Linked DNA regions of Homo sapiens. The protein of the gene in region 1 binds, or shares a complex with, the protein of each later gene. Each region holds a gene or a part of one and is shown on either strand. Other genes may lie near its edges. The genes, in order: CWC22, PPIL2, RBMX2, PLRG1, SF3B2, SNRNP40 and SNRPG.

Region 1 (3,500 bases):
GATGTGGTTCATACTTATCATGAATTTAGAATTTTATAATTAATGTAATTAGCATAAATGACTGTGGAAGCTGTCAGCCAGACCCAAGCCTGTAAAAAATGATGAGTTTAACATAGATTGAGGTTTTTATTTTATTTACAAAATTTTTGAACTGTTTTAAACCCTTATTTAAAAATGCAGGCAGTCACTATCATACTGGTAAATTATACAATATTTAGTCTCTTTGTGTTTTGAATCATTAATGTATTTTTTTTCCCAAATAGAAAGAACTCTGCAACATGATACTTGATTGCTGTGCCCAACAGAGGACATACGAAAAATTTTTTGGCTTATTAGCTGGGGTGAGTTCCAGCCTCTACTGAGGGAATTCTTAAAACGAATATTGTAAATTAATGATTTCTGCTTTATGGTCTGGTCTCATTTAAAAACATATTACCACTTTTGCTAAAAGCAAATTATTCTCTCCTTCCTCAGGTTTCCCACTCTCTTCACCTTCCTCTTTTTCTACTTCATTTTTGCAGTGCTTTAACTTTGCATATCACTTTTCCAGAGCTTTTTGGAATTTTCCATGATTTGTAATGATTTCCCAATAGACGACAAGTAAATGCTGTCTTTTCAAAATCTCAAAGCAGTGTCTAAAGTCAAGTACATGTTCAGGCAGCACAATTAAAGCATGATCTAAAATATTTCTTTAAGCTCTACCCTCATGTGATCACCTACATGTATGATTTTGTTTTAACATGTAAATCTCAGGTAATTAGAAACCATATATATTAACTTCTTTTTTGAGCATCATATGGCACAAAAGGATTTAGTGATATATGCTCTTTGAAAATATAAAGCATATTAATAAAGTTTTGATTCAGTAAATTTAGGATTTAATATGCTCATAATTGTATTAACATTCAATTTTTAATGGTACTGATTTTTTATTTATTAGCGATTTTGCATGCTAAAGAAAGAGTACATGGAATCCTTTGAAGGTATATTCAAAGAACAGTATGATACCATCCATCGCTTGGAAACAAACAAGTTGCGAAATGTTGCTAAGATGTTTGCTCACCTTTTATACACTGATTCACTTCCATGGAGTGTAAGTACATGGGTCAATATTTATACTTCCTTCCTAATTCCCTGTTCTCAAATAGATTTTCGTATAAGCTAGCCATATTTATCCTATTATGAAATGTGCTTTAAAATGAAATGTGTAGAACTGCTGTCTTTGAGATTATCATCATGTTATAAGGAATCAGAAAGCTAGGTAAATAATATACAAGAAATACTATCTTTGTATTATATTAACAGTCCAAACATGCCAGTGTTTCGATAGTGATGGCTAGGAGTGTCTTCAGGAAAAGTACTGCAGATTTTCATCTTCTCTGTGTACACACACGTGCATGCACACTCACATCCACATATGCCACTATTTTGGTGGTAAATGTGTCTCTGAATTACTCTCCCTTGATTCCTGAGGGAATAACTCTCCATGGTTCTCTTGTTGGGTTTGAGAAAAAATGATTGTTCTAGAAGGATGTGTTCTTTTTAGCAGACATTGAAGTTGGGTAAGCTATAGAGAGGATATCCTATAGTCATAGAACAAAGAAAGATATATTCTTGATAGGGAAATGTGCACTGGATTGAAATTTGAAAGGCGTTCATTAAGCTGGCATTGATTTTACAGCTGTTTTTCAACCAGTGTTAGTTAGCCACCACTTATATACTGAGTCATTGAGAGAGGTGCTGTGTATTCAGAGTGAATTATACATGGCCCCTCCTTTCAAGAGGGTTACAGTATAAGACCAGAGGTAAGATATGCCCATAGCAATGATACAAAATAAAAAGTCTTAGATTCTAAGAAAAGCAAAATTACTAAAGGAATTTGAAAGAAAGAAAGAGAGAAGGATGAGAAATTACATCCAGGAGGAAAGAACAGGATTATCTTGTAGAATGCCATCCTACTAATGGTAGAATGAGGCAATATCTCAAACTTAAAAACATTGGTTAGATTTTTATAGTACTTTAAGTACCAAGTATGTCCAGCTACATTAATAGGCATTCGTAATCTAACCTAGGAGACTAATTGTAATAATTTTTGACTTCTTTTTTCCCCTCTTTGAGAAAATGAAGTGAGAATTTTAAACAATTAACCAACTAATGGGCCCCCCAAACACATAACCCATAAAAACTAGAGGTTACTTTTATTTTTATTTTCCCTAAAAATATTTCTTTAGGCATTTCAGTTTTTAAGCCACAGTCTTAATATTCAGAATAAACCATTATACTTTCTGTCTTTTTTTAAATCGTATGTTATGTGTGCTAAACAAAATTGTAGCCTAATGTGCTAAGTGGCATTTTGCCCCAAACCTTCATATACACCACATTTTGATGAGTAAGGTTTAGGAGCTAGTAATCTTTACCATTATATGCTCAAGAGAGGATATCTTCCCTGCTATAAAAAGCACATTACTCAAAACAGAGAATGAAATCTATTTCTGTCGCATCTTAACATTTTGAAAGTTAGTATAGAGAAGTAGTTTTAAACTTTATGTCAGCATAAGGGGAGATATTCAGAGATAACTCTGGTTGAAGATGGGAATAAATAGTAATTTTGAGAAACACTTAAACCTACAAATATTGGTCACTATGTCCTGTCTTTTATAAATTAAAATATACTTGTCTTTTTTTATTTTAATTTTCAGGTTCTTGAATGTATAAAACTGAGTGAAGAAACCACTACATCATCCAGTAGAATTTTTGTCAAAATATTTTTCCAGGAACTGTGTGAATACATGGGTCTTCCTAAACTTAATGCAAGATTAAAGGATGAGTAAGTTTGCCATTAAGCACTTTTTATTCTTATTGACCTCTGGTTTTCTCCCATTGTAGCAGACATAAGCCCATCCGAGACTGTAAAAACAAGAGCTAAGCCCCCTGAGACTTTCTTCATCCATTAATCACTGTGAATTTCATGTTATGTCACACAGGACAACATGCAACTTTTAGTGGTGGTTTTTAGTTTAAGTGGAGTTCAAATTAATGCCTTTTTAGATTTTCTTAGAAAATACAGAATTGTTTTTGTATGCTCACTTGAATTCTCCAGTGATATTTATAATTTTATTTTCTTTTTACCCTAATTTTAAGCCTTAGAATGATAACTAATATTATCAGTGGACAGTTTTGAGTATATATTTCATCTATTAATAATTGTTCAAAATATTACATAGAACTAGAGCCTTATTTCAGGATTATTATGTAATCCCCTCTCACCTTTCTTATTTCCTGTTTGTTCAGATTGCCACTTAGGTTGACTTCTACTCCATTGACACTACTGAAATCATCCTTTCAGATTTCTCAGTGACCACCTGCCATATTCAGTTGTCTTTCTCAGGCTGCATGCCTCTTCACTTCTCTGCCTCACTTATGCAGTTGACTACCTACTCACTGTGGCTCCATACTTTCTTCTCACTTCCTCTCTCAGTCTTCTCCTCAGCCTGCCTCTT
Region 2 (3,500 bases), on another chromosome or scaffold:
CATAGCATCTCCACAGGCAAAAGACCTGGACTAGAACCTAGCACAAGATCACCACCTGGGCAGGGGTGGGCTGCACAACTCATCCGGGCCTCTGGCCACAAGAACAGCGGAAGGTGTGTAATGGGCATGAAGCAGGAGCCGCAGCACTGGGCTGGGCTCTATGAGCTGTGGCAAAGAAAAGCCTAGCCCAAGAGCTACTGGACAAATCCCTCCAGACCACCCACATCCCCTACTCAGCTGCCGCCTTGGTTCCCAGCATGAGCAACTTCTGCCTCCAACAACAAACAGACCACAGCCTCAGCCAGAGGGGGCCCATGCCCTGCAGATCCAACTGTGCCCACAAAGGCCACTAGCAGCTTACAATGGCCTGATCGCCTTTGTGGGAAGTTCCCAACACCACAGGTTCTGCCCCCAACCTCCCCCACCTTAAAACTACCCAGACCTTTGAGAAGAAATCTTGTGACACCTTTTTTTTTTGAGACAGAGTCTCGCTCTGTTGCCAGGCTGGAGTGCAGTGGCACCATCTTGGCTCACTGCAACCTCTGCCTCCTGGGTTCAAGTGATTCTCCTGCCTCAGCCTCCCGAGTAGCTGGGACTACAGGCGCCCGCCACCATGCCCGGCTAATTTTTGTATTTTTAGTAGAAACGGGGTTTTACCATGTTGGCCAGGATGGTCTCAATCTCTTGACCTCGTGAACCATCCGCCTCGGCCTCCCAAACTGCTGGGTTTACAGGTGTGAGCCACCGTGCCCAGCCCTGTGACACTTTTTGCGGAATTAAAAGCAGGTGTCTAGCTTGGTCAGAAAGCAATGACTGATTCCGTATGAAAACTGGTGAGAGCTGGGCCCTTGGGTCTGCAGGTCAAGCCCAGAATTGGCTGTGATAGTTCCACTCACCCTCACTGTTCTTGGAAAAGTTCAGCTTGATCAGGGACCTCCCGTCCAGCTTCTGGAAGAAGCACAGTTAATAATTAATGATAATGAATAAGTAACTGATGCACAGAGATGCTAGGGTCAGAGACAGGCAGGAAAAGTCTCTGACTAGGCCAACCCTGTGCAGCTCTGGACAAAAGGGAAGGCCCCAAGACCCTGCAAGGACCTCACGGGGGCTGCAGGATGGCGTCGGGCAGTTGTGTTTATGTGGCACCCCCACCACGCTCTGAGAAGAGCCGTCACGGGTGACCCCGAGCAGGAGGACCAGGCCACAGGGTGGTGTGTGTTATACTTCTGCAGGGTTTGGACGTCTTTATGGTGAGCACAGATTACTTCTAAAATTAAAAAGTGAACATATTTCTTCAGCTAGAGTGGTGGGACACACAGAGTCCCTCTCTGTCACCAGGCTGGAGTACAGCGGCAACATCTCAGCTCACTGCAACCTCCCACTCCCTAGTTCAAGTGATTCTCCTGCCTCAGCCTCCCGAGTAGCTAGGACTACAGACACACGCCACCACACCAGGCTAATCTCCTGACCTCATGATCTGCCCACCTGAGCCTCCCAAAGTGCTCTGTCATATGAATATTTAAGAAAAACAAAACATTAAAAGTGGGGAGAAAGTAAGAAATACACTCCAATGCTAAGAATGGTTGTGTTGGGAAGATGGGACTCTATTTTTCTGTTTCTGGATGTTTTTTCTTTTTTCTTATTTCCCCTACCCCAGGTGGCAGGTAATGTTTTCAGTTTCTGTGGTGTGTCTGCAGTACAGCTCTTCCACAGCAAACTTTCCCATAAAACAAAGTCTGGACAACCGGAGGTGGGAACTGCTGGGGGCGGGGCTGTGGGGAGACCCTGGAAGGGAGGCAGAGCTATGTGCTGCTGGGGAGCACCTCACTCAGGGCCACAATCCAGCAGCTGCTGCCACCTGGTGTGGGCTGGGCCCAGCTATGCCTACCCAGGCCCAGGGGAGACACAGCGGGAGCCTCCTGGGGCTGGGCCCTAAGCTGGCAGCAGGTCCTTAAGCTGCCCTCCCCGCCCTCCGTGGGCCCTGCCTGCTGCTGGCCAACCCAACTGACCGCATCTGCTCCTCTAACCACCTTCGTTCCTTCCTTTGTCATTCAACTACCCCCACCTCCCTACATCACTACAGGTGTGGAGGAGACCACCAGAGGGCCAGCAGGGTCCCTATTCAGACACAGGACCTGAGCAGAGAGACTCCCCAACACAACAGGCTCCTCCTGAGCCCCCAAAAGTCACATGGGCCAGCCAGCCCTTGGCCCAGGAACTCTCCTCAGAGGTTTGGCTAGCAAGGCTCTGCTGACACCCATAGGTCTGGCCAAGCAAGCACACAGCAAGGTCCCTTCCAGAGCAGGCCAAGGGAGAGGCGCAGGCACAGGATAAAGACGTGTAGGGCGCTCCTGCAGACTCACCCCAACATGATGCCTGGAACAAAGAAATGGCCACACCTCCCTGATGTAAGCCCTAACAGCGTGGCTAACTGCCAGATCAGACTTTGTGGGTGTGGGGGCCAGCACAATCGACAAGTTTGGGAACCCCAAAGAGTACCTGTGAAGCAAAACACCCAAAGTAGCAAAATGCATCCCAGCTGCAACCAAATGACAGAATCCACTGGGACAGCAGGGGCCATGAGGGCAGCTGTGGACAGGAAAACCCCACCTACCCCCACCTTGCCACCAGGCTGCTCCCTGAGGCCGACACCCAGCCACACAGGGCACAGGCAGGCAGCAGGGACCTCTGCTGAGAAGAGCAACAGAGAATGACTTCCCAGACTGGGGCACGGACCTTGGGGGAAGCCCCTGGGATCCAATGTGGCTCCCAGCAGCAGACATCACAGAAACAGTCTTCAAGTGACAAAGACCAAGGAAGAAGAGTGCCCTCCCTAAGGAGGTGAGGCCACAAGCCCCCTACCCAAGCATTTGAAAGAGAAAAGCCACGGGCTTTAGTCGCTGGTCCAAGAACACTCAAAAACCAGCCCCCTGGCCAAGTTCCCCTTGTACTGGAGAGCAGGGAAGCCTTGGAGGAGCACCAACTCCATCTACAAAGAGTCCCCAGAACCCTGCAGCCCCCAGAACACCACAAGGGCCAGAAGAGCTGAGACAGATGGGCTGCCAGCTTCTCCTGCTGGCCCGGTAGGGAGGGTCATATTGTCCAGGGAGCTCCCTCCCAGCGGCTCCAGCACAGGGAGCCCACCGGAGTCCCGACCCTCCGTCTCGCACAGTTTGAGCTCTTGCCCCAGGCCATAGGAAAGAGGTGGAGGAATACATGCAAGTAATTCCAACAGGAAGGGCAAGGTCACTGGTAAAATACACTAGATCTCCCTCGGAACCAGGCTGCATAATGTCCCCACAAAACTGATGCTCACTGGGAACCTGTGAATGTGGCCTGACTTGGATATAATCAAAGGTTTATATAGGGTCTTTGCAGATAGAATCAAGTTAAGACGAGGTCACAGCTATGGCCCAAGAAAAGACATGCACATATATACACGTGCACAGGCCGGAAGCATTTCTGGAAAAGAATGGGTGTGGGGAGAGGAGGGGAAGACT
Region 3 (3,500 bases), on another chromosome or scaffold:
CGTGCCACTGCACTCCAGCCTGGGCGACAGAAACTTTCACATGCTAGGAAGTGGGGAATGTGCATAAGGAGAACAACCTTGGCAGCAGCATGAAGCAGCCACTGTCTAGGCCTCCAGGAGAGTGCCTCCGAGAAGCCAACTTGGATGTCTGTCACCTTTGATATGTCGAGTGGCTGTACAAGGTAATTCCCATCCTGAGTTACCTCTTCAAAGACCTTATCTCCAAATACAGTCGCATTCTGAGGTGCTGAGGGTTAGGATTTCACCATATTAACTTGGGGAGAGACACAATTCTGCCCATAGCACCAGCCTTCCACTGATACTCCCTGCTTTCCCAATTAAACTATGCTTCCCCACACCTTCCCCTTTCACACTTGAGTTGATTATCAACTATCAGTGAATGCAAGGAAGAGCAGACATTAAGACCACCCAGAATCTTCTCTTAAGTCTTAATGCTTTACCTTTTTTGTGCTTTTTTGTTGGTTTTTCATCTTCAGAGCTCTCAGACAAACTTGGTGAGGGGGTACGAGCCCCACAGCCCTTCTCCTGGAGTTGTCTGGTCACATCATCTATTTCTTCTGAGTCCTTAGGAGCCCGATAGTTAGACACATGATCCACTCGGATAGTTCTTCCTTTGATCTAAGCAAGACAGGCGATGCTTCAGTGAAGACAGCCCTCATACCAAACTGTCAAACTATTTGAACACAAGCTACAGAGAACCATGATTTGAACTACATCCTTTACCTTCTTGTTAAATTCTGTCACTAAAGCAGACCTGTCCAACTGGTGTGTCATAGCATGTACACCTAAATATTAATACATTCAGCTCTCAGTGCAGCCAGATGAGGCCTGGGGCAGTTGTACCAGCAGCCTCATCACTTTACTCTGGGGCAGCATACAAATATCTTCATGTTCTGTATGTGCCATAAAATGAAAAAGACTAGGAAAACTACCTCAAAGCACAAGCATCAGGGAAGACTGAGATTTAGATGCACAATGAATCACCCTTGATCTGTAACCTAAGTTTACAGTGAAACATACCCTAGGAAGGTCTGGCAACTAGAAGGAATTCTTGAAATCTAGCTTAATGCTACAACTGCTTTCTCCACCCAGTAATTAGGAGGCAAAGTCAGACCAATAGTTTGGAGGGAGAAAGGAATCAAGAAAAGGGCACTTGCTTTTTTCTTAAGCCCTCACACCTTGCTCTAGCCCCACCATACTGGAACAATCAGCTCACGCTGATTCTTGCACAACGAATCACATCTCTCCAGATGAACAACAACAAAATATTAACCCCTCTGGCCGGGCGCAGTGGCTCACACCTGTAATCCCAGCACTTTAGGAGGCCAAAGCGGGTGGATCACTTGAGGTCAGAAGTACGAGACCAGCCTGGCCAATATGGTGAAACCCCATCTCTACTAAAAATACAAAAATTTGCCGGGCATGGTGGTGCACACCTGTAATTCCAGCTACTCAGGAGGCTGAGACAGGAGAATCACTTGAACCCAGGCAACAGAGGTTGTGGTGATCCAAGACCACGCCACTGCACTCCAACCAGGGCAACAGAGTGAGACCCTGTCCCCCTCCCCCACCCCCCAAAAAATTAACACCTCACTTAAAATAAAAATATTCTATTTTTAGGCAGATACAGACTTACTCCCTAGGCAAAGTCATCCAAAATTTAAAGTTTGGCTTTTATTGTTCCAATACAAGAGCAGATTTTTATTTTTACCTTAAGGCCTAAGTGGCTTCTGTCATGTATCCTCTTCTCCATTTTGAAACACTTTGGAAAACCTTCCTTTTACAGTGATGCCCTCTGACTGCTGGCTTCCTTAAACATCAAGCCTAGAACCTTGTTCCACTCTGTTCTATAATCTCCAGCTATTCCATACTCGTGAATCAGTGACAAACTCTCCAACTCAAGCCTCCCCCCACCAACTCTGTGACACTGTTCAACTGCAGCTCTTTTCCTAAATGAGTGCAGCAACCACATGGAGCATCAATAAGCCTGACTTGCGCTATCTCCTTCTAAGAACTCAGTGCCTCACTTATGACAGTGGAAATGAGAGGGAACTGGGGGGAGAAAATTTCAGGATGAAATTACTTTTGTAGAATCTGCCATCAGATTTTAACTAGAGAATTTCTAGGGCCCAATATGCTAGGTCACTGGAGATATATGACAGACATACATGGCTATGTACTAGATTATGAGGCCATGATGAAGCCCAAAACCCCCAACACACAACAATATGGAAGAGCAATGTTTGCTAGTCTCTTCATCCTCCAGTACACCAGAGATGACAGTAGACAATAAAAGAAAGGTGAAAAACAGAGGCCTGGATGAGAGGCAGGCCTGGTGCCTATGCTCCTGGGGAGATGGTTTGTTAACAGATGGGGAAAAGAAGCAAGTCCTGCAGGACCATGAGCCAACAGAATTATTTCCTGGAATCTCTTCTTGACCAGTGTCTCCACATCTCTGCAGCCCCCGCAACACACCAAGCTCACAAGTGCTGCCCTTGTGTCTGCGGGAACCAGGTAGAAAACGAAACCCCTATACATGGGAAAAAAGTCCAACCAACCTGCTTAATAAGCACACTCACCTTGATCCCATTAAAATTGTCGACGGCCAGAATTGTGCTCCTCTGGTCTTCATAGCAGAGGAAACAGAATCCTTTGGATTTCCCAGTTTTCTTGTCCCGCACGAGATTAATGTTAACAATCTCCCCATATCTATTTATTTTATAAAAGAGTAAGACACTGTTGACTTAAAAGGCAAAAACATGCAGATAAGGTAATAAAACAAAATTCAAATAATATAGTGTATACAAGAGATGCATCTAGAACAAGATGACATAGAAAGGTTGCAAAGAAAAAGTCAGACAAGAACAGGAACCCCCAATTAAAAAATGGGTGGCAATATCCAGAGCAAAGACTAATTCAAGGCCAAAATAAAAATATCACATGAGACTAAGAAGATTATTTTACACTGAAAAAGGCCTAAATACACAACAAAGGTATAAGCCAGGAAAACGTTATGAGCCAATTAAGAAATCAAAAATTTTAATTAAAAAAGCTATTTGAAATGCAAAAAGAAACTAATAGAGAAAGTTATGGGAGAATTTAACACATCACTTTGAAGTTTATCACGCACAAAGTGGACAGAAATAAACTAAAATCAGATTAATTAATATACATAATTACTCTGTTATAATAACAAATATTAATGTAGGACTATTAGATACATAGATATCTTTGAATCCTACAAGATGACATTTTCAAGAATCCATGAAGCATGTATTAAAATTGACTATGGATTAGGTCTCAATGTAAACCTCAATAATTATACTACAAAAAACAGAACAGACCATGTTTCCAGTTATAATGTTATAAAGCTGGAAATGATATTTTAAATAAAAAAAAGTTACCTAACTAGAACTTGAAAGCTACTCTCCTAACAACAGCATGAAAGAGAAGACGAAGCAAAATTAAAAAAAAATAAA
Region 4 (2,948 bases), on another chromosome or scaffold:
CCCAAAGATGCATGGTGCCATTGTCAGCTTAAAGGGAAAAATCTAGTTACACCTGGTATCCCCTCAGCAGTACAGCTTGACAAACATTTATGAAGCATCATTAGCCCAAGCATGGGAATACTACGGTTATAAAAATACATAAGACACAGGCACTCCACCTTCTCTTAATATTGGTTTGTCTACTTTCATTTGGGCTGGGTTCAGAACTTATAGATCTTAAAAAGCACCTGAAAATCTGACATCCAATTCCAGAATAATAAACAAAATTTTAAGCAATTCCCAGCATAAATCCCTGAGATTCATTAGATGGGAACTCAAAGAGGACTAAGCTATGAAATATACTACATGTAATATGAATATGCATGAACACACATAATAACATGCAAATATGCCCTAACCAGGCAAGTGCTGCTATAATACTTAAGTGTGACAGCTTAGAAGCATTACAAATGTTTATTCATCATTAAAAGAAAAAATAACAGACTAAACATATTTATTATAAAAATCTTATTTTACCTCCAGATACAAGCACTCCATCAGAATTTACCGTCAATGTGTTAATAATAGCATTATGACCGGAAAGATTTTGAATGAAACTTCCATCAGGGAATTTCCACTGCTTTATGTTATCTGGAGAACCAGATGCAAATGTGTAACTGAAATAATATTAAAAAGAATTAACGACAAAGTAAACCAAGTTAAATAAAGTGGTGGGTTTTAAAAAGTTTATTTCAGTTATATTTTGCAGTGTGTACTCAATGATTTATATATTCAGCAAAATAGTCGTATCAAAATGTAAAAATATTAAGACATTTGTTCAAGGTTAAATCAGACCTTCACATTTTTAACAGTATATTTTAAGTCCTAGATTAATGTTTTGTTCTCCTTTCATTTCCTTAATGCTCTGCACTAAGCCAGAGCAATAAATGTGCAGAAGCCCTATTTCACATGAAGGGCAATGTGTTATGCAACTCTTTTGGAGGGAGGGAGAGCAAGACAGGACAGGAAGAAAGAGAGAAAAGGAATAGAGGGCAAGAGGAAGAGAGAGAACAGGAGGGAGGAGAGGCGAAATGGGAGTGAGAAAGATAAGCAAAGGAAGGAAGAAGAGAGGGGGAAAAGGGTATGGAGAGTAGAAGACAGAGAAGAGGAAAGGAAGGAGAGGAAGAATCCAGAAAAGTGTCAGAGTGATCTGATACACCAAACAATAGTTGTGATATTATGCTCCACCTTTTTGGATACTCTGACTGTAATGTTCACGGTTCTTATTATTTCTGTTTCTACATATATTAACTTCCTCCTTAAGAATTAAACTATTCAATGAATGTCTCAGTGTCCAAAATCATTTATGTCCAAAACATTAAGCCTAGCCACTAATATCTTTTATTTTGACATGCAGCATTTAATCATGATTTACACTGTCTCATTTGACATTATTTATTTGTTATCAAGTAGAAGGCTTTCCTCATGTTTTATAGGGCATGAAGCAAAATAGTGCATGAGGAAAATAAAAGAAACACACGTTCCTATGCGGCACAGGCCTAGAAATGACAGCAGCTAAATGACTGCCAAAAGCAGTGCTAACACCACTAGCATTTCAGCATTATCTTAAGAACTGAAGAAAAACAAGAAGCTAATTAGGAAAATACACTTACTGTCTTGGATGTAAAACCACAGCCCTAACTGATTTTTTGTGATTTGTTAATGTCACTCTTGTTTTTCCAGCCACCAGATCCCATAATCGAATTGTAGTATCATGGCTTCCTGTAATGGAAACACATATATCCCTCAAAACATAGACCAGGAAAAATAATGCAAAAGTTAAATAAAATACAAAGCATTCTTCCAAAACACATATGTTCTAAATGAAAGTCATATCACACGCAAATTAGTCTTGGCTAATTTCTTCATAGTTCCAAATTTTTAGGTTGATTTTAATTCTTTAAAAAAATGCAATACAACAATTGATTCACTGTCAATTGAACAGCTAAAACAAATGCAAATAACAAATAAATATATAATTGTATACCCTAGTGAAAAGGAAAAAACTTCAATGATTTTTTTAAGTTAATAAAATACATCAGGCAAAGGAATTATTTTCTAGTATTAAAGATCCATTGTTACTAACTTTATTTAGAGCAAAGTAAGATTCAAATCAGTTCTAAAGATTACTAGTCTCAAGATGTTTTGTCTTCTAACTTCAATTTCTTAGAAAAATAATTTTGACACTATAAAATAATAATTGTTCATAACACAGTATTCTAGTCAGACATTACAGGATACTATGTATGGCATACTCTATGATATGTAAAAAGCATGAGGTAAAAACAGTGGAATGAAATTTCATTTGAATACATTTCAATTGTCCATGATTAAAATATGACACAGAAACACTGTAAACACAATACAGAGCAAGAGTCATCATGAATATTAAAAGTATATGTATAATAACATGGATTCTGACATGAATATTCTGTAAACTTGAAAAGTATCGATCATACCTGTAATAATTTGTGGTTCTGCAGCCTGACATCTCACTGTAGCAACTGCATTTGTATGTCCAGATAATGTGTGTACACTGGCTTTAGTTCTCACATCCCAAATCTATAAAAACACAATAGACATATTAGGAAAGAGAATAGGTATTCATTATCTCAAGAAGATAACTGGATCAATTCAAGGCTGAAAATTTACTACATAACTAGTGCCTGAATATAATAAAGAAAATGCTTAAGTGAAAGATAATGATTTACAAACTGGAGGACGAATATAAATAGGAGACAACTTGCAAGAATTCTAAAAAGCTAAAAGATCAGGGTACTGAAAATCTAAGAATGAGTATGATGGGACTACTTTTTAAGACTACTGAATGAAAGAACTAATGGACAATAGTTGTTACAGAATGGAACGTGAGAATATCACATTTCAGGGGCAGGGCACTAATAACACTA
Region 5 (3,500 bases), on another chromosome or scaffold:
GGTGTCTCAACACCTGTAATCCCAGCACTTTGGGAGGCTGAGGTGGGAGGATCCCTTGGGGCCAGGGGTTTAAGACTAGCCTGGGCAACATAGTGAAACCGCACCTCTACTTTAAAAAAAAAAAAAAAGAAAAAAGAAATAATTTTTTTTTAGCTTCACTTCAGTCTCTCAGAAATAATTTTATCTCAAGAATGTCTTCAAATTTCTTATTTTAAAATAAGCATTAAAAAAATTGATGAGTCATTAAAGTAAAACAGTAGTATTGTTAAATTTTAGATAGAAATTTCTGCCCCTTAAGATAAATAGATTCTGAACAAGCTAGCTTTCCAAAGTTAGGAAAACTCAATAAGAAATTGAAGTCATGTTTTCAATGTACGTATTTTGGTTTCAGACAGTAAAGACTCTGCCATGACAGAAGTTATTAGCATACTTTCTGCCTCCTGTCTCCTTATCCTGTTGCCTCCAGATTTTAGTTGTTTATTAATTTTGGTTTCTAATGCTTCATAACATTTGATTTAATTCTGCAGTCATAATTTCCGGAGTTCCCAAGTATCAGCTCTGTACTTTTGAGTGTGCCTTTTCTCTAGGGCTTCAGAATTTCTTTTGCAGCTAAGGAGTGAACTGATTGTGCTCACTGTCTTGCAGAGCTGTTCCTTTGGGTACCATGCTGGTGGCTGGGGCAAACCTCCAGTGGATGAGACTGGGAAACCGCTCTATGGGGACGTGTTTGGAACCAATGCTGCTGAATTTCAGGTATGGGCCATGTACTAGCGATCTTGGTTTTACTTAATGTCATGAAGGTTAGATTGTTGGTTTATAGCTTCATTATCAGGGAGTTGTGTGTTCTGACACAGCAGAGCCTGGAAAAGGGCATACATTTTCCTGAGATGTTAATGTAAGCTCCTCACTAGAATTTGAGCTCTAGGTAGGTAGGGATTATTGTGTTTTGACTCTTACACCCCTTCAGCTTAAAACAGCCTGGCACATAATAGGTACTTAGAAAACATTTGTTGAATGATAAAGTGATCTCTTTCAGACCAAGACTGAGGAAGAAGAGATTGATCGGACCCCTTGGGGGGAACTGGAACCATCTGATGAAGAATCCTCAGAAGAAGAGGAAGAGGAAGAAAGTGATGAAGACAAACCAGATGAGACAGGCTTTATTACCCCTGCAGACAGGTGGGGGAAGCAGAGAATGCCTCTTGGAAGTGGGCTATCTTTGGGGTCCTTCTCTTTACTCCAGAGCTTGTTCCTCTCTTTACAGTGGCCTTATCACTCCTGGAGGCTTTTCATCAGTGCCTGCTGGAATGGAGACCCCTGAACTCATTGAGCTGAGGAAGAAGAAGATTGAGGAGGCGATGGACGGGTAAGGGTACCAGACAGGGCTGAGAGGGGAGGACCTTCACTTCCCTTTGGCTGGCTGGCTGACTGTTGTTCCTTTCTCCCTCATCCTTTTTTAAACAATTATTGAACCAACTCTCTGCCAGGCACTACTGTAGGCAGTGAGGAGTCAGCAGTTGAGGTAAACTGGTAATCAGAGAACAAGATACTTTCAGATGTAGATAAGGATGTTGAAGCAGAGGAAACTGGGTAATGGGATGGGGTGGCAGGGAGGCCTTTGGGAAGGCCTCACTGGGGAGGTGGTGCTTGAACTAAGACCCGAATGAAAAAGCGCCAGCCACAGGATCATCTGGGTCAGAAGTAACAGTAAATGCAAGCAAGTGCAAAGGCACTGAGACAGGGATGGGCTAGTATTTTGAAGCTCCATTTTTAGGTAGTTGAATGTGTAGTGTTGTTAGGTCTTCATGAATTGACCCCTTTATCATGAAATGACCCTCTCTTTATCCATTCTGCTCTTTGTTCCCTTTTTCCTGTTTTTCTACCTTCTTTTGGATTACTTGAACAATTTTTATGATTTCATTTTATCTCCAGTGTTGGTTAATTAGCTGTTAAGTTTTTGCTTTGTTATTTTAGTTGTTGCTCTGGGGTTTATAGATCATGTCTTTATCAGGATCTACCTTCTCTTGATGTTACACTGCTTCCAGATAGTATTAAGAGCCATTATAGTATACTTCATTTCTCTCCTCCCAATTTTTGCACTATATTGTCATATATTCACTTTTACATATGTTATAAATCCTATACTATATAGTTATTATTTTTGTTTAAATGGTCAGTTATCTTTTAGGGAGGTTTAAATAAGAATCATGCATGAAGCCATGTAGTTACCATTTTTGTTTCTTTCATTTCTTTGTGTATATCCAGGTTTCTATCTGATATCATTTTTCCTCTGCCTGAAGGGCTTCCTTTAACATTTCTTAAGTTAGGGGGCGTGGTGGCTTAAGCCTGTAATCTCAGTACTCTCAGTACTTTGGGAGAAGGCTGAGGTGGTAGGATTGCTAGATTCCAGGAATTTGAGACCAGCCTGGGCAACATAGTGAGACCCCATTTCTACAAAATATTAAAAAAACATTTCTTGTATTGTGGGTCTGCTGGTTTTGAATTTGTTCTGCTTGAGTAGTCTTAAAAATTCTTTATTTGGCCTTCATTTTTGAAAGATCTTTGCCAGGTTTAGGATTCTAGGTTGACAATCTTTTTTCTTTCAACACTTTTTTTTTTCTTCTTTGAGATGGAATCTTGCTATGTCGCCCAGGCTGGAGTGTAGTGGTGTGATCTTGGCTCACTATAACCTCCACCTCCTGGGTTCAAGCGATTCTCCTGTTTCAGCCTCCCGAGTAGCTGAGATTACATGTGCATACCATCACACCCAGCTAATTTTTATATTTTTAGTAGGGATGGGGTTTTGCCATGTTGGCCAGGCTGGTCTCGAGCTCCTGGCTTCAAGTGATCCGCCTGCCTTGGCCTCCCAGCTTGTTGGGATTACATGTGTGAGTGACCGCATCAGCCTTCTTTCAGTACTTTTAAGATGTTGCTCCAGTGTCTTCTTTCTTGCATTGTTTCTAGTGAGAAAACTGCTGTCATTCTTACCTTTGTTCCTGTGTACATAATGTGTCATTTTTATTTGGCTGTTTTTAAGATTTTATCACTAGTTCTAACAATTTGACTACAATGTGCCTTGGTGTAGTTTCTGAATGTTTCTTTGCTTGGGGTTTTTTAAGCATCTTAGATCTGGGTTTTTAGTTTTTATTAATTTGGGGAAAATTTTGTCATGATTTCTGCAGATATTTTCTCTGTTCCCTTCTCTTTCCTTTGGGAACTCAAATTATTCCTCTATTAATGAAATAATAAATGAAAAAATAAATGAAGAGCTCACTGATGCTCTTCATTTTTAAAGAAATTCTTCTCTCTTTGTATTTCACTTTAGAAAATTTCTATTGCTATATGTTCAAGTTTACTATTATTTTCTTCTGTAATTTCTGATCTAACAGTAATCCCATACAATATAATTCTCCTTTCTAGAAGTTTGATTTCGGGTCTTTTAAATCTATTCTTTCTCTCTTAACTTTTTGAACATGTGGAATGCAGTTATAACAATATTT
Region 6 (3,500 bases), on another chromosome or scaffold:
GTTTGTATTCTTTGTCCTGTGTGACCACTGAATTCTTTTTTTCGTTAGCTTAGTGGTCAGCTAGTGAATGACACAAGTTTCCTAAATTACCTACAACAACAAGAACAAAAATTCTCCCAGTCTTTGCAGATTGTCTTTTTGTATGTTGGAGCCTGCCTTCAACTCCTTGCCATGCAGTTTACATCTCTCCTTAGCTTTCACTTCCTGCTTGTGCAGAGCCTGAAGGTGAACCAGAGAGCTTACGGCCTTCTCAGATCTTTTCTAAGTATGTGCCCAGCCCTGGACATGCAAGTGGTCTAGATTGCCAGGAATGGGCCAGGCGTGGTGGCTCATGCCTGTAATCTTAGCACTTTGGGAGGGTGAGGCAGACAGATCACTTGAGGCCAGGAGTTTGAGACCAGCCTGGTCAACGTGGCGAAACCCTGTCTCTACTAAAAATACAAAAATTAGCTGGGCATAGTGGCACACGCCTGTAATCCCACCTACTCGGGAGGCTGAGACATGAGAATTGCTTGAGCCCGTGAGGTGGAGGTTGCAGTGAGCCAAGATCGCACCACCGCACTCCGGCCTGGGTGACAGAGGGAGAGTCTGTCCCTAGATAGATAGATAGATAGAGATTAGATAGATAGATAGACACATAGATACATAGATAGATAGATATAGATGATAGAAAGATAGATAGATAGATAGATAGATAGATAGATAGATAGATAGATAGATAGATAGATAGCCTAGGCGACAGAGGGAGAGTGTGTCCCCAGATTAGATAGATAGATAGATAGATAGATAGATAGATAGATAGATACATAGATAGATAGATAGCCAGGAATATGTCGGTGCTTTTCGAAGCTCTTATTCCCCAAATTGTCTCCTTCCCCAGCCCTTCCTCCCAAGGTTTTTGGTTTGTATTTTTGCCCCAACTGTTTTTCCTTGCCCCCAGGAACCAGAGGCTAATAATGTCCTTTCCTTTAAATGTTTTCAAGGGAAGTTCCAAGTTAGGCAAAATAAATGTAAGTCCTTTGGGCTCATCCTTCAGAGAGCCACCAGACAGGTAAAAATAAACAATTTTTATTGTTTATTCTTTGACAATAAGAAATAGGCCCCCTTTGCTTCCTCAGTACTAGGAAACCATACTGGGAATATGGGTTATCTTCAAAGCTGTTGCTGAGCAGGAGACAGAGCCAGCACAAGTTAAAACACTACAAAGCCCTTTTACTGGGACTCAGGGAGTTTTTTGTTTCCTTTTTCCTCATTAAGGGTTTGCCGGGTTACTATAAACTTTTGATTAGTTTTGAGAGTTCCAACAGTTGATTCTGACAGATTTTGCTGGTTAATTTGCTGCTTTCGTGGAGGGACAAGCTTTTGTCATTGTTTATTATACTATTTTCACTGACATACCCTCTATTTTTTTAAATGTGGGTTGCAGCCTACTAATGAATTAGTCTCTACGGTTTGAAAAAATTGTCTGATATCCTTGTTGTTCTAAAAAATATATGAACTAAGTAGTTAGGGGAATTCCATTCTAAGAGTATGTTGATTTAACTCTGTTCACTTCAACAAAGAAGTCTGAAAATATAACCGAAGTTTTGTTTCACCAGCCTTCAAATGTCTTGGCAAAATTGAGCACACTGCTTACCATGTGTGTTATTAGGATATCCAGGAGTTAGTGATATAGGATCCCAATTATAGATGTGTTCATGTCCACAAAGTCCTCGTACTTAAGGGATATTTGTACTGTGCAATTGCTTCTTAGAATGATGTTGCTGATAGACTGTCTTGTCCTTTGCTTCAGCTTTGGGACATCCGGAAGAAAGCAGCCATCCAGACATTTCAGAACACGTACCAGGTGTTAGCTGTGACCTTCAATGACACAAGTGATCAGATTATTTCTGGTGGAATAGACAATGATATCAAGGTATGTTTGATGTTTATGATATATTTCCATTTCATCTATCTGCACTTAGAAACGAATTTTTTCAAACTTCTGAGATTGTGGTAGCTTTGCACTTAATACCAACTGAAAGGAAAATAGTAACTTGGAACTTATTTTCTTTTTCTCCTGTCTTCATTGACTTCCTAAATTAAAGTTTGCATTGCAGATCTTATAAATGCTGTCAGGGACCAGGCACTTAATGTGAAGTGTGAAGTCTCTGTAGGGGGACTATGTAAAAAATAAAGAGTGCATTTCCTTTTAAAGACATTCAAAATCTTTTTTTAACCATCTTGGTTTAAAGAGAGCAGTGAATCAGTTTGTGATTCTGTATCCTCATCTCTCACTGTGTTTTTCTTTTTGACACTATGGAAAGAGAGTTTTCTAAGTTTCTCTAAGAATGAGAGAAGGTAATGATATTAAAGAGGCAATAGACCATATGGCAGTAGAGTGTAGCTCAAACTTTCAAGTAATTGACTTGGGTTCTAATCCCAGTTTCACCATTTTCTAGTTTTGTGACTTCAAGCACCTTCTTTAAGCCTCTTTTTCTTGTGTGAATGGTGAGGGGGTAATGATAAAAAAAAAAAAAAACAGTAGCATCTACCACATACCATTGTGGGGATTAAATGAGCCTGATTCATTAGAGCACTTAGCAGAATTCCTGGACATAACAAGTGCCAGGAAATGTATTATTTTGGGCCTGCACAGCTTCTGTCTTCCTTTCCTCTTGGCTTCCTTGGGGATCTTAACGACTTTGACCTTACCTTCTGCTTTATAGTAAGAAGAGTAACTGTCAGATACTCAACTTTCTGTGTTGTCCTTACCTAGAAGTTGTACTGTATTTCCATCCCTCATTGTTTCCTTTGCTGTTACTTTGGATGAAATATCCTTGCTTTTGGCCAGGTGTGGTGGCTCACACCTGAAATCCCTGCACTTTGGGAGGCCGAGGCGGGTGGATCACAAGGTCAGGAGACCGAGACCGTCCTGGCCAATGTGGTGAAACCTCGTCTCTACTGAAAATACAAAAATTAGCTGGATGTGATGGTGGTGTGCCTGTAATCCCAGCTACTCAGGAGGCTAAGGCAGGAGATTACTTGAACCTGGGAGTCAGAAGTTGCGGTGAGCTGAGATCACGCCACTGCACTCCAGCCTGGCCACGGAGCAAGACTCCATCTCCAAAAAAAAAAAGAAAGGAATATCCTTGCTTTTGTCTAAAGGTAGTCCTTTTTTTTTTTTTTTTTTTTTGAGTCAGAGTCTTCCTCTGTAGCCCAGGCTGGAGTGCAGTGGTGCTATCTCAGCTCACTGCAACCTCTGCCTCCTGGGTCCCAGTTCAAGCAATTCTCCTGCCTCAGCCTCCTGAGTAGCTGGGATTACAGGCACGTGCCACCATGCCCAGCTAATTTTTGTATTTTTTAGTAGAGACAGGGTTTCACCATGTTGGGCAGGCTTATCTCGAACTCCTGACCTTGTGATCCACCTGCCTCGGCCTCCCAAAGTGCTGGGATTACGGGTGTGAGCCACCGTGCCCGGCCTAAAGGTAGTCCTTTAAATGTGAGGGTTTCAATCCTTC
Region 7 (3,500 bases), about 110 Mb from region 1:
GTGCTGGGATTACAAGCATGAGCCACCGCGCCCAGCCCATAAATATATTTTTACTTGTAAATGTATCTACTCCCTCCTTCAGTCATGCTCCTTGTTTTATATTTACATTTTCCCATGATAATCCTATACATTAAAATTGAATAAGTGCCCCACTTCGTGGCCCATATACTAAACATCTTTTTTTCATTTTTTTATATTTTAAAATTTGAATGAAATTTTTAAAATTGAATGAAATTTTATGTTTTCTGGCCTATATGGAAGAAATTAAAAACTGATTTGACTGCATGGCTTAATCTCGTATTCCACTAAAATGGAATTTTTTTTTAATTCATATCGTTTGAAGTTTCAAATGTGCATTTATTATTCTAAAATATACTTAAATGTTGAGGACTACCCTGAACATTTATGCTTGATGCTTTAATATTAAATAAAAGAACACTACTTATTTCAAATATAAAATACCTATTGAATTGGATATGATTTGATTACTGTTTGCTGTCTTTACAACTTAGTTTTGGAAATAACCAAACATAGGCAAGTCTTTGTTTTTCTCTTGTGACTATAAAATCCAGTCATTGAAAATTAGGTCAATGAGACCAGATGTGGTAGCTCATGCCTGTGTAATCCCAGCGGCACTTTGGGAGGCTGAGGGGGAGTATATTTTTCGAGGCCAGGAATTCAGGACCAGCCTGGGCAACATAATGAGACTCCCATCTCTTAAAAAAAAAAAAAAAAAGAAAGAAATTTAGGTCAATGAAACAACGTAGTATTGAACAATAAGAATGTAATTCACATTAGTATACTCTACTTAATGTAAATTAATATAGTCTAAATATGTTTCATTTTTATTGCCTTTCCTCTTCCCAAATTACTTTGCTTCCTAGAATGTCTAATTTAGGTAACCCTTTACGCCCCCACTCTTTTTTTCCCCTGAGACAGTTTCGCTCTATTGCCCAAGCTGGAGTGCAGTGGCGCAATCATGGCTCACTGCAGCCTCAACGTGGCAGGCTCCAGTGATTCTCCGACCTCAGCCTCCCAAGTAGCTGGAACCATAGGCATGTGCCACCACCCCCAGCTAATTTTTGTATTTTTGGTAGAGATGGGGTTTCACCATGTTGCCCAGGCTGGTCTCAACTCCTGAGCTCAAGCAGTCCACCCGCCTCAGCCCCCTAAAGTGCTGGGATTACAGGCGTGAGCTACCTCGCCCTACTCCCTCACTCTTTACAGCAATACATTATTTTTACTATTTTAGATTTCATTATTCCCATTGTATAAATTTTAGCAAATTATCTTAACTATACCTATTTACTTGTTTATGCTTAAATTTTTTTAATTGGTTATATAATCTTTACCCTTTTCCTTTTTCAGATTTATGGACAAGAAGTTATCATGTAAGTTTGTTGTTGTTTTGGGGTTTTTTTTAATTATTTAATTGCTTTTTACATGTGTCTTAGCAATGTTTGGAGCAACTTTATAAAAATTTAAAGCAGCCAGGCGCGATGGCTCACGGCTGTAATCCCAGCACTTTGGGAGGCCGAGGCAGGCGGATCGTGAGATCAGGAGATCAAGACCATCCTGGCTAACACGGTGAAACCCCGTCTCTACTAAAAATACAAAAAAAAATTAGCCGGGTGCAGTGGCGGGCGCCTGTAGTCCCAGTTACTCGGGAGGCTGAGTCAGGAGAATGGCATGAACCCAGGAGGCGGAGTTTGCAGTGAGCCAAGATGGCGGTACTGCACTCCAGCCTGGGCTATAGAGCTAGACTCCGTCTCAAAAAAAAAAAATTTAAAGCACACAGGACCTCTAATTCACATCCGTTAGTTAAGCAGATTACTTAATCCTAACTAGACAATTTTATTTACCTAATTTCTGATAATTAATTTAACAGCACTTCAGACTTTATCTTATGTAAGCCCTTCCTCACTTTGGCAAAATTAACAGGATTTATCAACCTTTTTTCTTTAAACAAGCTACAAAGGACTTAGACAAGGAACAGTTATCTTGTTTCTTGGGAATATGTAGGAATAACATTTGTTCAATTTATCTAAAAATCTGACCCACACAGTACTTGAAATATATGTAGGGGAAAAAACCATGAGCGTTAGAGGTAAGCAGCCTTCAGCTTGAATCTCACTTCTGTCGTACAGTAGCTGTATAACCATGAACCCAGTTACTTAAAAGCTCGGGCACGGTGGTTTACACCTATAATCCCCCAGCACTTTGGGAGGCCAAAGCGGGAGGATCCCTTGAGCCCAGGAGTTCGAGACCAGCCTGGGCAACATAGGGAGCCCCCATCTTTATAAAAATTTTAAAAAAGCTCTGAAGTTTAGTTCTGTCCTATAAAGTAAGGATAATACTACTTTTTAGGATTCTTATAAATTAAAATGTGGAAGTAAATACAAAAATGTTTAACCCAGTTCTTGTCATACAGTAAGGATAGTGGGTTTCAGACATCTCAAATACTTGTGTTTTATCCCACCTGATTTTTAGTGAATGCTTGGTAGCTAATGGAATGTTTTTCTAAAACTTCTTTTTCTCTTTTTAATAGTGAAATTAAATGGTGGCAGACATGTCCAAGGAATATTGCGGGGATTTGATCCCTTTATGAACCTTGTGATAGATGAATGTGTGGAGATGGCGACTAGTGGACAACAGAACAATATTGGAATGGTGGTAAGTAAAGATACAAGAGTTCTCTTGGAGATTTCATTTTTCTTTTGGAATGTGTATTAACTTTCCTGGTTAGTAACCCCCAGAAATGGCAAATAACAGGCAAGATTAGACTTTCCATCTCCTTTTTAGTTGCATACGGCAGTTACTCAGCTGTAGTAATATCCTGGTTACCTGTAGGTAAGATCTCAACTATACAGAACCTAAGGTCCTAGCGCTTGAAATAGCTGTTGGAAATCCTTTTTGAGCTTTATTCTGCAATAGAGGCTCATAGTTGGTCCTTCATTAGAGCAGTAGTTCTGAAACCTTAATGTGTATATGAATCCCCAGGGAATCTTCTTAAAATGAAGATTCTACTTCAGTAGGTATGGGGCAGAACTTAACTAAGGTTTTGCATTTCTACTAATGCCTAATGCAGATCTGCCAGTTCACAGGTAACACTTTCTGATTTTACTTGTATACATAGTTAACCTGGATTTTCTGGTTTACCACACCCAAAATTTTAAGGTAGCCAAGGTAAAAGTTACAAGGGATAATCACAATGACAGTTATTCACATGAGAGAAAAAGCAGGAAAAAATAAGCACATACTGAGCCCTCATAGGATTAAACATTCCTACATTCATTGGGCCGTAGTTTTAGTGATTGCTGAAGAAGAGTTTTGATACCCAGACTTTGAGTCCCTCTTTGTCTAACACAGGACAACATACCTAATAAAGCGGTAAGCCCAAAGTTCTTGAAAAAGGTGAACCAAAAAGGACAACTTACTTTTAGCAAATTATTAAGCATAAAGACCTCCAAGGAGTGGTAAGAGTTGCTAATTATTAGCCT

What was found.
Region 2: CWC22 (region 1) and PPIL2 share a complex: the UniProt entries of both Homo sapiens proteins name them as parts of the minor spliceosome.
Region 3: CWC22 (region 1) and RBMX2 share a complex: the UniProt entries of both Homo sapiens proteins name them as parts of the minor spliceosome.
Region 4: CWC22 (region 1) and PLRG1 share a complex: the UniProt entries of both Homo sapiens proteins name them as parts of the minor spliceosome.
Region 5: CWC22 (region 1) and SF3B2 share a complex: the UniProt entries of both Homo sapiens proteins name them as parts of the minor spliceosome.
Region 6: CWC22 (region 1) and SNRNP40 share a complex: the UniProt entries of both Homo sapiens proteins name them as parts of the minor spliceosome.
Region 7: CWC22 (region 1) and SNRPG share a complex: the UniProt entries of both Homo sapiens proteins name them as parts of the minor spliceosome.

Annotation. Positions count from the first base shown.
Region 1 is NC_000002.12:179,951,798-179,955,297, reverse strand, and holds part of CWC22 (pre-mRNA-splicing factor CWC22 homolog), read left to right. Parts: intron 1-263; coding exon 264-341; intron 342-940; coding exon 941-1,093; intron 1,094-2,699; coding exon 2,700-2,827; intron 2,828-3,500. UniProt on the Homo sapiens protein: Required for pre-mRNA splicing as component of the spliceosome. As a component of the minor spliceosome, involved in the splicing of U12-type introns in pre-mRNAs. Promotes exon-junction complex (EJC) assembly.
Region 2 is NC_000022.11:21,672,512-21,676,011, reverse strand, and holds part of PPIL2 (RING-type E3 ubiquitin-protein ligase PPIL2), read right to left. Parts: intron 949-3,500; coding exon 897-948; intron 1-896. UniProt on the Homo sapiens protein: Has a ubiquitin-protein ligase activity acting as an E3 ubiquitin protein ligase or as an ubiquitin-ubiquitin ligase promoting elongation of ubiquitin chains on substrates.
Region 3 is NC_000023.11:130,408,487-130,411,986, reverse strand, and holds part of RBMX2 (RNA-binding motif protein, X-linked 2), read right to left. Parts: intron 2,731-3,500; coding exon 2,601-2,730; intron 640-2,600; coding exon 462-639; intron 1-461. UniProt on the Homo sapiens protein: Involved in pre-mRNA splicing as component of the activated spliceosome. As a component of the minor spliceosome, involved in the splicing of U12-type introns in pre-mRNAs.
Region 4 is NC_000004.12:154,537,453-154,540,400, forward strand, and holds part of PLRG1 (pleiotropic regulator 1), read right to left. Parts: intron 2,602-2,948; coding exon 2,499-2,601; intron 1,762-2,498; coding exon 1,653-1,761; intron 657-1,652; coding exon 517-656; intron 28-516; coding exon 1-27. UniProt on the Homo sapiens protein: Involved in pre-mRNA splicing as component of the spliceosome. Component of the PRP19-CDC5L complex that forms an integral part of the spliceosome and is required for activating pre-mRNA splicing.
Region 5 is NC_000011.10:66,062,364-66,065,863, forward strand, and holds part of SF3B2 (splicing factor 3B subunit 2), read left to right. Parts: intron 1-645; coding exon 646-753; intron 754-1,036; coding exon 1,037-1,179; intron 1,180-1,264; coding exon 1,265-1,366; intron 1,367-3,500. UniProt on the Homo sapiens protein: Component of the 17S U2 SnRNP complex of the spliceosome, a large ribonucleoprotein complex that removes introns from transcribed pre-mRNAs.
Region 6 is NC_000001.11:31,279,789-31,283,288, reverse strand, and holds part of SNRNP40 (U5 small nuclear ribonucleoprotein 40 kDa protein), read left to right. Parts: intron 1-1,792; coding exon 1,793-1,915; intron 1,916-3,500. UniProt on the Homo sapiens protein: Required for pre-mRNA splicing as component of the activated spliceosome. Component of the U5 small nuclear ribonucleoprotein (snRNP) complex and the U4/U6-U5 tri-snRNP complex, building blocks of the spliceosome.
Region 7 is NC_000002.12:70,287,241-70,290,740, reverse strand, and holds part of SNRPG (small nuclear ribonucleoprotein G), read left to right. Parts: intron 1-1,368; coding exon 1,369-1,391; intron 1,392-2,548; coding exon 2,549-2,673; intron 2,674-3,369; coding exon of another isoform or gene 3,370-3,480; exon of another isoform or gene 3,481-3,500. UniProt on the Homo sapiens protein: Plays a role in pre-mRNA splicing as a core component of the spliceosomal U1, U2, U4 and U5 small nuclear ribonucleoproteins (snRNPs), the building blocks of the spliceosome.